2 separate regions of the Homo sapiens genome follow, and region 1 is linked to region 2. Evidence: fine-mapped expression QTL. A gene starts in region 2. The other region holds a variant in brackets. All regions are shown on one strand. Distances are between the middles of the regions. Region 1 overlaps RCC1L (RCC1 like). Region 2 holds the start of RCC1L (RCC1 like).

The links. PIP is the estimated chance that this variant, and not a neighbour inherited with it, causes the effect.
Region 1: its variant is the best candidate, but not a certain one, in a credible set for the expression of RCC1L in monocytes (TOPMed, PIP 0.73).

What each region holds. Positions count from the first base shown.
Region 1 is chr7:75,049,022-75,054,396 of GRCh38, reverse strand. RCC1L (RCC1 like) reads left to right here. Exons shown (of 11, transcript NM_030798.5): 10 at 1,601-1,686. Among named protein-coding and RNA genes, the nearest start is that of RCC1L, 22 kb to the left of the region's middle. The variant A/G (reference allele first, on the strand shown) is at 2,786.
Region 2 is chr7:75,070,488-75,075,862 of GRCh38, reverse strand. RCC1L (RCC1 like) reads left to right here and starts at 2,061. Exons shown (of 11, transcript NM_030798.5): 1 at 2,061-2,449; 2 at 5,094-5,223. The coding sequence starts at 2,126. RefSeq lists a silencer at 2,156-2,375.

The sequences.
Region 1 (5,375 bases), 21 kb after region 2:
TCCCCGAGACTTAACAGGCCTCCTTCTAAGGGTGAGTTACTGCCTGTTGGTAGACAGAGCCTAGCTGTCTTCCTGCCTGTGTGCCTGGCATTTGCAGATAGCCATCTGGGAATTAGAGTTGGTTGGTTTATCCTGTGGTCTGCTAGCATTTTGGGGAGCCAGGCCGAATTGTTCTATTAAACACCTAAGGGCTAGCTGGGTGCAGTGGCTCATGCTTGTAATCCCAGCACTTTGGGAGGCCAAGATGAGAGGATCCCTCAAAGCCCAGGAGTTCGAGACTAGCCTAGGCAACATAGTGAGATCCCTTTTCTACAAAAAATACAGAAATTAGCTGGGTGTGGTGGTGTGCGCCTGTAGTCCCAGCTACTCTGGAGGCTGAGGTGGAAGGACTGCTTGAGTTTGAGAGTTCAAGGCTGCAGTGAGCTATGTTTGTGCCACTGCGTCGCAGCCTGGGCAGCAGAGTGAGACCCTGTCTCAAAAGCAAACAAACACACACACACAAAAACTATCTAAGGTCTGAGTGTGGAGAACAAGGGGCATGCTTAGATCAGGGGCCTAAGACAGCTTGTAATTATTCCGTACTTCATCAGCCCCAGGTCTTGTAGTCCTGGCTTTTCCATGTCACTTCCTCTGCCTCCCATGACCCAAGCCTTTTGCCCAACAGCTGATGGTGACATGGGCCCAGGAGTGCCCCAGCTGGTGCAGACAGAGTCCCACCTGAAGGCCGGGCTAGGAGAGGCCATCTCCTGGGTTGACCTCTTAAACAGCATCTTGTACTTTTTCTTCATGACAGTTTTTACAGTTTGTAAACATATATTAAAATCATCTGTCTGTTCCGTCTCTGGCCAGTCCCCAGCTCCTGGAACACAGACCTAGACCCAGCACAAGCAGGCACTTGGTCATTAGATGCCCTGTGGCTGAATGCTCCCAAGATATGGACAATCAATCCAGGAATGACAAATTGTCTTACTTTTCACTGTCAAATCAGGAAGCCCAGGGTGTCGCCAGGATTTGTGGAAGGCAGAGTTTGGTGGCACACGATTGTGGGCGGGGCACAAGGGGTGAGCAGAGTGGGCCGTGTGCATCAGTGACCTCCAGCCCCGTGCACCACCCCCAGACCCCAGCTCCATGCACCACCCCCAGACCTGTCCACCACCCCCAGACCCCAACTCCATGCACTACCCCCAGCCCTGTCCACCACCCCCAGACCCCAGCTCCATGCACCACCCCCAGCCCTGTCCACCACCCCCAGACCCCAGCTCCATGCACCACCCCCAGCCCCGTGCACCACCCCCAGACCCCAGCTCCATGCATCACCCCCAGCCCCGTGCACTGCCCCCTGCCCCATCTTCATTTGAGTGCTCATCTCCCACGTGGGTGGATGCAGCAGAAGTCCTGGCCGTGGATGTGTTTTCGATATGGGGACAGCATCTCAGACCCTTACTTTTGCCTTCAAAGAAAGCATGAACGCCTGGTAAAAGCTGAACAGTGGGCTCTGTAGGTATCTGGTTCTAGAAAGCCTGTTCTCATGACCCATCCTCTCCTTGGAGACTTGTTCTTCACACAGTCCCAACCAACCCCTGTTTTCCTCCCTTTGCAGACAAAGGAGAGCTGTTTGTATGGGGCAAGAACATCCGAGGGTGCCTGGGAATCGGTCGCCTGGAGGACCAGTATTTCCCATGGAGGGTAAGGCTGGCCGGGGAGGTCTTGAGAATGGATGCTAAGAGTAGAGTCACCTGACGTCACTGCAGACACCTCGCGTGCAGATGGGCCAGGACGAGGGCCATGGGACCTGCTCCCCCTTCCGGGTCCTGGCTGCACTCCTGCAGCGCGGCATGCTATGTCATTGCACACTCTGTGGTGACACCCATGAGATACCCGTGGTGCATCTGCATGGTGTGATGCGTGGGGGAGTGACACCAGGCTTCTTGGGGTGCAGGAGCTGGGTCAACCCATCCCGGCCCACTGACTGGGAGGTTGGAGGGAGTAGCCCACTCAAGCATCCAGTCCTATAAGAAGCCCTGTCGGAGGCCATCCTTGGGGTGGATCGGGGAAACAGAGGCACGATGGTGCAAAGGCTCTGGTAGGGTGCCATGAGGCTCCGGAGAGGGGGAGATATTGGATGAAGTTGGCACGCTAGAAGCTGTTTACAGAAGCCCATGTGGGGGAATGCTTCACAATGAATTTAAAAGAAAGCAGGATGTTTAATATTTAGATGGCCCAACCGCAGCTATGAAGTGAAAAAATAAAGTCGCTTCCTTAGGGGCGGTAGTATGCAATTAGACAAAAAGGCTCCTTCCAGAATTACAGGGGAAGAGACGCTCATTCTAAAATTGTAGTTTACCTTAGTGTTGTTTACTAAGTCAGTTCTTTAAGGCATTCTAAAAAAGGAGGTTTTTGGGGTTTTTTGAACATGAAACATATGTTCATGGTACAAAAAAATGCACTATGGAAAATGAGTCTCCCACCACCCAGTTTTTGTTCCAGAGGCAGCCACTGGTCCTGATTTCTTTATGTTCCTTTCCAGAGATAGTCTCTGCATAGAGACTGGTGTGCATGCGTGCTTTGTGTGTGTGTGCCTGTGAGTACATACATGTGTGTGCAGTGTGCATATGGGTGTATTTTATCAGAAGGTTGGATTTTAATTTGTTTTGAAATTGTGAAAAGCGTTTTTAAAAAGGACTTGCACCAGGTGTGGTGTCTCACACCTGTAATCCCAGCGCTTGGGGAGGCCCAGGTGGGTGGATCACAAGGTCAGGAGTTCGAGACCAGTCTGACCAACATG[A/G]TGAAACCCCATGTCTATTAAAAATACAAAAATTAGCCAGGCATGGTGGCACACGCCTGTAATCCCAGCTACTTGGGAGGCTGAGGCAGGAAATCACTTGAACCCGGGAGGCAGAGGTTGCAGTGAGCCAAGATCAGACGCTGCTGCACTCCAGCCTGGGCAACAGAGGGAGACTGTGTCTCAAAAAAAAACAAAGGACTTGCAAAAGAAATGTGTATATATATATGTGTGTATATATATATGTGTGTATATATATGTGTGTGTGTATATATATGTGTGTGTGTGTGTATATATGTGTGTATATATATATGTATGTATTTATATGTGTGTGTATATATGTGTGTATATATACACACACACATATAAATATATATACATATATAATACATTTATATTATACGTTTATATATATTAAATATATATATATATATATTTTTTCCAAGACTATCGGTGGAGGCTCTGAGAAAGCAAGTTGAAATGGAGACTTTAACTTTGTTTTTTTGTTTTTGCTTATTATGAGACAGGGTCTCACTTTTATCACTCAGGCTGGATTGCAGTGATGTGATCACAGCTCACTGCAGCCTTGACCTTCCTGGGCTCAGGTGATCCTCCCACCTCAGCCTCCTGAATAGCTGGGACCACAGGCGTACACCACCACACCTGACAAATTTTTTTATTTTTAGTAGAGATGGGAGTCTCACTATGTTGCCCAGGCTGGTCTCAAACTTCCGGCTTCAAGCAATCTGCCTCCCTCAGCTTCCCAAAGTGCTGGGATTACAGGCATGACCCATCACGCCCGGGCGACTTTAGCCTTGTTGGAAAGCTGTTTGTATAATAGAGTTGTTCCCAAGGTGGTGGGGCTTGCCGGCTTTCTCCTGAGCCTGGAAACTGCCGGTGTGAGGAACAGAGAGTCGGGCAGTGGGTGTGGCTCAGATAATGTGAGCATCAGTCATCTACATGCCCACTTGCTTTCTCACTGACTCCTCTCTTCTCTCACTTTGCCCTTTCTTTCGAAAAGGACTTCCTTCTGAGGGGGGAACTTGGGAAACAGTTAAAGCAGCCGGGTTTTGGGTGAAAGAACGCTGACGAGGGTCTGCCCCCCGCCCTCATTTCCTTCAAATCAGAGTGATCAGCCTGAGATTTGACTCAGGTCACGTTGCCCCTGCCATAAGGGCATGTGCAAAGCGCTGGTCCCTGTGCGGGCAGGGAGTGGCCGGAGCCCGATCCCGTTGACATTCCATCTGGGTCACTTGCCCTGGCTCGCCACACACCAAGTGTCCTTCTGGTCATTTGCTTTTTATTTTTATTTTTATTTTATTATTATTGTTTTGAGATGGAGTCTTGCTCTGTTGCCCAGGCTTGAGTGCAGTGGCATGATCTCAGCTCACTGAAACCTCCACCTTCCGGGTTCAAGTGATTCTCCTTCCTCAGCCTCCCTGGTAGCTGGGATTACAGGTGCATGCCACGACGCCTGGCTATCATTTGCTTTTTAAACACATTTGTGCCTTTGGGAAAAGAGCACCCCAGCCTGTCCCCGTGACGGCGGCATTTGGCGCCAAACCATTGTCCTTCCTCTTGCACATTCAGGGAGCCCCTAAGGGTTTGTGCACGGAGTGGCCTCGACCCCTGTCCTCTTTGGATTGGGGTGGGAGAGTCCAGTCCCTTCTGATGACTCACTTAAAAAAAAAATTACAAGTGATTTTTCTTTTCTTTGTTTTGTTTGTTTGTTCTTTTAGACAGGGTCTTGCTCTGTCACCCAAGCTGGAGTGTGGTGACAGGATCTCGGCTCACTGCAGCCTCTGTCTCCCAGGTTCAAGTGATCCTCCTATCTCAGCCTCCCGAGTAGCTGGGATTACAGGCTTGCACAACCACACCTTGCTAATTTTTGTATTTTTTGTAGAGATGGGGTCTTGCCGTGTTGCCCAGGATTTTTTTTTTTTTTTGAAAACAGGGTCTTGCTTTGTCGCCCAGGCTGGAGTATGGTGTGATCACACTCACTGCAGCCTCAAACTCCCAGGCTCAAGCTATCCTCCTGCCTCAGCCCCACAAGTAACTGAGATGTGGGATGGGATGACAGGCATGTGCCAGCACCACACCCAAATAATTTTTTTTTCGTTTTTTTTTTAAGAGACGGGGTCTTATGTGTTGATCTCAACCTCCTGGTCTCAAGTGATCCTCTTGCTTCAGCCTCTGGAATAGCTGAGATTACAGGCATGTGCCACCACACACGGCTTATTTTATTATTTATATTTATTTGTTTTATTTTATTTATTTGAGAGATGAGGTCTTCCTATGTTGCCCAGGCTGGTCTCAAACTTCTGCCTCAAGTGGTCTTCCCACCTTGGCCTCACAAAATGTTGGAACTACAGGGGTGAGTCACTGGCTTGGGTGATCTTTATTCTTTAAAACAACTATGTTCAAATTAATCTTCCGTAGGGGATATATTACATCATTTAAAAAGTATTCCAGAAAAGAAGAGAAAAAAAGAGTAAAACTTTACTTGTAGCTCATACACTGGTACCAACTAGTTATTCTTAGACTTGCAGAATTTGGCCTTTTCTGAGTATGTGGGCCCGGGAGGTGACATCTG
Region 2 (5,375 bases):
AGGGATTGAAAAGAACCCACTCACCAGATCAGTGTCCTGTATCATGTTTCAGAGGGTGTGTTGATCTCTTCTGGTAAAACAGATGCCATGGCTGGGCGCGGTGGCTCAGGCCTGTAATCTCAGCACTTTGGGAGGTGGAGGCGGGCAGATCACCTGAGGTCAGGAGTTGGGGACCAGTCATGGCCACCATGGTGAAATTCCGTCTCTACTAAAAATACAAAAAATTAACCGGGTGTGGTTGTGCACGCCTGTAATCCCAACTACTTGGGAGGCTGAGGCAGGAGAATTGCTTGAACCCAGGAGGCGGAGGTTGCAGTGAGTCGAGATCATGTCACCGTACTCAAGCCTGGGTGATAGACTGAGACTCTGTCTCAAAAAACAAACAAACGAACAAAAAAACAGACGGCACGCTTGACACAGCAGCTATGAGTTGGACCATGCACTTGCCTAAATGTATGGTGGTCCCCTGTCCCCTACCACAGTCCATCTTTTTTTATTTTTTGAGACGGAGCCTCGCTCTGTCGCCAGGCTGGAGTGCAGTGGTGCGATCTCGGCTCACTGCAACCTCCGCCTCCCGGGTTCAAGCTATTCTCCTGCCTCAGCCTCCCAAGTAGCTGAGACTACAGTGCGTTCCACCACGCCCAGCTAATTTTTGTATTTTCAGTAGAAATGGGGTTTTACTATGTTGGCCAGGATGGTCTCCATCTCTTGACCTCGTGATGTGCCTGCCTTGCCCTCCCAAAATGCTGGGATTACAGGTGTGAGCCACTATGCCTGGCCAATCCATCAGTTTTTTTAGGAGCCAAACAGGTGAACTCAATGGGGAGCTACCCATTGGATAGGAATCACCACCCCTCTGAATCTTTTACATCTTTGAAGGTGGCACTAGCATCTACAATTCCATGTGGCAAACAGTGTGTGTTCTGATTGAATACTGGCTGGGTCGAGACAGGGTAAGGGGACCGATGTGAATGGCTAAGTTTATCTATCCCAAATGGTGGCAGGGAACTTACTACCAGGCGGGTCCATAGACACATTTATTTTTACTTTTATATTTACATTTAATTTAATTTTTTTTTTTTTCAGAGACAGGGTCTCACTCTGCTGTCCTGGCTGGAGTGCAGTGGTGCAATCATGGCTCACTGCAGCCTCGAACTCCTGGGCTTAAGCCATCCACCTGCCTCAGTCTCCTAAGTAGCTGGCACCACAGGTGCACACCATCACGCCGAGCTAATTTTTAAATTTTTTTGTAGAGAAAGGGTCCCACTATTTGCCCAGGCTGGTCTCGAACTCTCAAGTGATTCTCCCACCTTTGTCTTCCAAAGTGCTGGAAGACTGGGTCCGCCGCAGAGAATACATTTCATAGCCCGGGAGACTGGTGGTTTCAGTGCCTTCATGAATTTTACTCCCTGTAGTAAGAGGCTTTCCATGAGCAGTCTTGTGGTCACCACATTTTATTAGTGGGTTTTCCCCAGTCATCTTCCATAAAACAGGCCTGCACAGGCTGGGGGCGGTGGCTTATGCCTGTAATCCCAGCACTTTGGGAGGCCGAGGTGGGTGGATCACTGGAGGTCAGGAGTTCAAAACCAACCTGGCCAACATCGTGAAACCCTGTCTCTACTAAAAATACAAAAATTAGCCGGGCGTGGTGGCGTACGCCTGTGGTCCCAGCTACTCGGGAGGCTGAGACACGAGAGTCACTTGAACCCAGGAGGGGGAGGTTGCAGTGAGCCTGTCGATAGGTTTGAGGGGACCTGGGCAGGGGATGCGAAGGCAGCAGGGAATCGTCCACTCCAGCTCGCTGTCGCTGGAGGACGGCCTGGGGCGGCGTGGGAGCAGACCGGAGCGGAGACGGCTGCAGCAAGGCCAGGTAAGAAATGTCGCGGGGCAATAGCAAGGGAGCAAAACAGGACACGCAGTTTCGCTAAGGGACAAGAATCCTAATCCCGCCCCTAACCCCGCCCCTCACCATCGCCACGCCACGCCTCCCTGAGCCTTGGGCTGCCGTCAGCGCCTTTGCCTTCAACCAGGAGTAAAAGTGGCCGTAGCCTCTTCCGGCGAGGACTGGTGTTAAGGGTCACGCAAGATGGCGGCGCCCAGAGGCTGCTGAGGCGCGGAACGGAGGATGGCGCTGGTGGCGTTGGTGGCTGGGGCTCGGCTGGGGCGGCGGCTGAGCGGGCCGGGGCTGGGGCGAGGGCACTGGACGGCGGCCGGGCGCTCCCGGAGCCGGCGCGAAGCGGCAGAAGCCGAGGCGGAGGTGCCCGTGGTCCAGTACGTGGGCGAGCGCGCTGCCCGCGCCGATCGCGTCTTCGTGTGGGGCTTCAGCTTCTCGGGGGCGCTGGGCGTGCCTTCCTTTGTGGTGCCCAGCTCCGGGCCCGGGCCCCGCGCCGGCGCCCGACCGCGCCGCAGGATCCAGCCCGTGCCCTATCGCCTGGAGCTGGACCAAAAGGTGCAGGCCGCGGCTTCCTCCTTCTCTCCTTCTCTCTCTTCCGCGCTCCCGGCCTCCCTCGACCTGTTCGGCTCTCTTCAAGAAGTTGGCTCCTCTGGGTGGACAGACTTCCGGCAGGACGACCCTCGAGCTGGCTGCAAGCCCAGGAGGGGAAGGCGTTAGGGGTGGCCATCAACATTTATTGGGTGGCAGTGCCAGATGTTGTGCCGGGTCGTGTCATTCGCTTAGCACCCAGTGAGTCGACAGTTATTCCCAATTACAGGGAAGGAAGGGGAGGCCCAGAGAGGTTGAGGCCCGAGGCCCCACCGCTGCTAGCTGTTTATATGCGGTGGAATTCTCACTCAGGCCAGCGTGACTGCAGGAGTTCTGATGTTAGGAAAGCAAAATTCAAAAGTCCATTGAAAATGTATACCAGCTGAGGTGTTTCAATGAACAACTCAGAAAGGGGATTTTTTTGTTTTAATTTATTTTTTAGAGACAGGGTCTCGCTCTGTCGCTCAGGCTGGAGTGCAGTGGTGTCATCATAGCTCACTGCAGCCTCGACCTCCTGGGCTCAAGAGATCGTCCTGCCACCTAGCCCGGCAAATTTTTGTATTTTTAGTAGAGATGGGGTTTCGCCATGTTTGCTAGACTGGTCTTGAACTGAACTCAAGCGATCCGCCCGCCTTGGCCTCCCAAAGTGCTGGGATTACAGGCGTGAGCCACTGTGCCTGGCTGAAAGAGGATTGATTTTAAAATCAAACCATCTTTGGTCTATATCCAACCTCACTGGAAGCCCCGGTTTTCTCATCGGGTCAGTGAAGGGAGGATTGATGAGAGTGTAGTTAAAACACCCAACAAAGACCTTGGGGTTGTCACTGTGTTAAATTCACAGTAGCTGTAGTACTGAGTTTTCCTTTTCATGGTAATAGCCTGAGTACGTAACGGTGTAGTGTCAGTGAAAAGCATGCAGTCAAGTTACTCAACCTTTAGAAGCCACACTTTCTCATCTGCCTTATACTACTGCTAACAGCAATAAGAAATAGAAAATATAATAACAAAAGCAATAACAAAAACTAAACAACAACAACAAAAAGCATACAATATAGGCCAGGTGCGGTAGCTCATGCCTGTAATTTCAGCACTTTGGGAGGCCAAGGCAGGAGGATCATTTGAGTTCAAGAGTTTGAGACCAGCCTGGGTAACACAGTGAGAACTCATCTCTCTGTCTCTCTCTCTCTCCATATATATATATATATATATATATATATATGTATATGTATATGTATATGTATAAATTTAAAATACAAAATAGAGTACAAAATATAGGTTTGTTTTTTTTTTTTGATCTGGCTCTGTTGCCCAGGCTGGAGTACAGTGGCGTGATCATGGGTCACTGCAGCCTCGACCTCCTGGATTCAAGTGATCCTCCTGCTTCAGCCTCCCATGTAGCTGGGACCAAGCTTAAATTTTGATTTTTTCATAGAGACAGGTTGTCACTTTGTTGCCTAGGCTCAAAATATAGCTCTTACCTTGAGATGGGTACTATTCCCTATAAGGGCTTTAGCTATATTAACTCGTTTAGTCTTCACAACAGCTTAGTGAGAGAGATGGTACTATTATCATCTTTACTTTTTAGAGAAGGAGAAACAGATATAGAGGTAAAGTAATCTATCTCAGATCACACAGTTGGTAAGGATGGGGCCAGGATTCAAAACTAAGGAGATCTGTCAACTTACCTACCGCGCTAAGAGATGGTGGTGTTTTTTGTTTTGTTTTGTTTTGTTTTGTTTTTGAGACAGAGTCTTATTCTGTCACCCAGGCTGGAATGCAGTGGCGCCATCTTGGCTCACTGCAACCTCTGCCTCCCAGGTTCAAGCACTTCTCCTGCCTCCCGAGTAGCTGAGATTACAGGCGCACGCCACCATGCCTAGCTAATTTTTGTATTTTTAGTAGAGATGGGGTTTCACCATGTTGGCCAAAGCGGGTCTCAAACTCCTGACCTCAAGTGATCTGCCTGCCTCAGCCTCCCAAAGTGCTGGGATTACAGGTGTGAGCCACCGTACTCGGCTGCTGCTAGATAGTGTCTTGATCTTGGTGAATGGGGATGGTAATACCTAGTGGTAAGCTGACATAGACCATAAATAGACTATATTTATGGTCTATGTGTAAATCACCCTTCATAGAGTGATTATAAAGATTAAATGAGATAATACTTATCAAACATATAGTAAATGCTCAATAAATGCTAGTTGCTGTCTTAATAATATGTGTTCTTGGGCCAGGCACGGTGGCTGACGCATATAGTCCCAGCACCTTGGGAAGCCAAGGCGGACAGATCACTTGAGGCCGGGAATTTGAGATCACCTGGGCCAACATAGTGAAATTCTGTCTCTACTAAAAATACAGAAGTTAGCCAGACGTGGTGTGCACACCTGTAGTCCCAGCTACTTGGGAGGCTTGAACCTGGGAGATGGAGATTGCAGTGAGCCGAGATTGCGCCACTGCACTCCAGCCTGGGCAACAGAGTGAGACTGTCTCAAAAACAAAAACAAAACCCCCGTAAATAGTATGTGTTCTTGGATTTGATAAATAACCTGTCATTTACTACTGAACAAACTTGACATTATAAATCAGTTCATGCTTTGTGGGAACTGCTTTTCAGATTTCATCTGCTGCTTGCGGCTATGGATTCACACTGCTGTCCTCTAAGACTGCGGATGTTACGAAAGTCTGGGGGATGGGACTCAACAAAGATTCTCAGCTTGGATTTCACAGGAGCCGGAAAGATAAAAGTGAGCATCCCTACCTTGTCTCCTCTTTGCCGGGATTGGTCTGAGAAAGCTCTTTTTTTGTATTTTTTTTGAGACAGAGTCTCAGTCTGTTGCCAGGCTAGAGTGCAGTGGCGAGATCCTGGCTCACTGCAACCTCCACCTCCCGGGTTCAA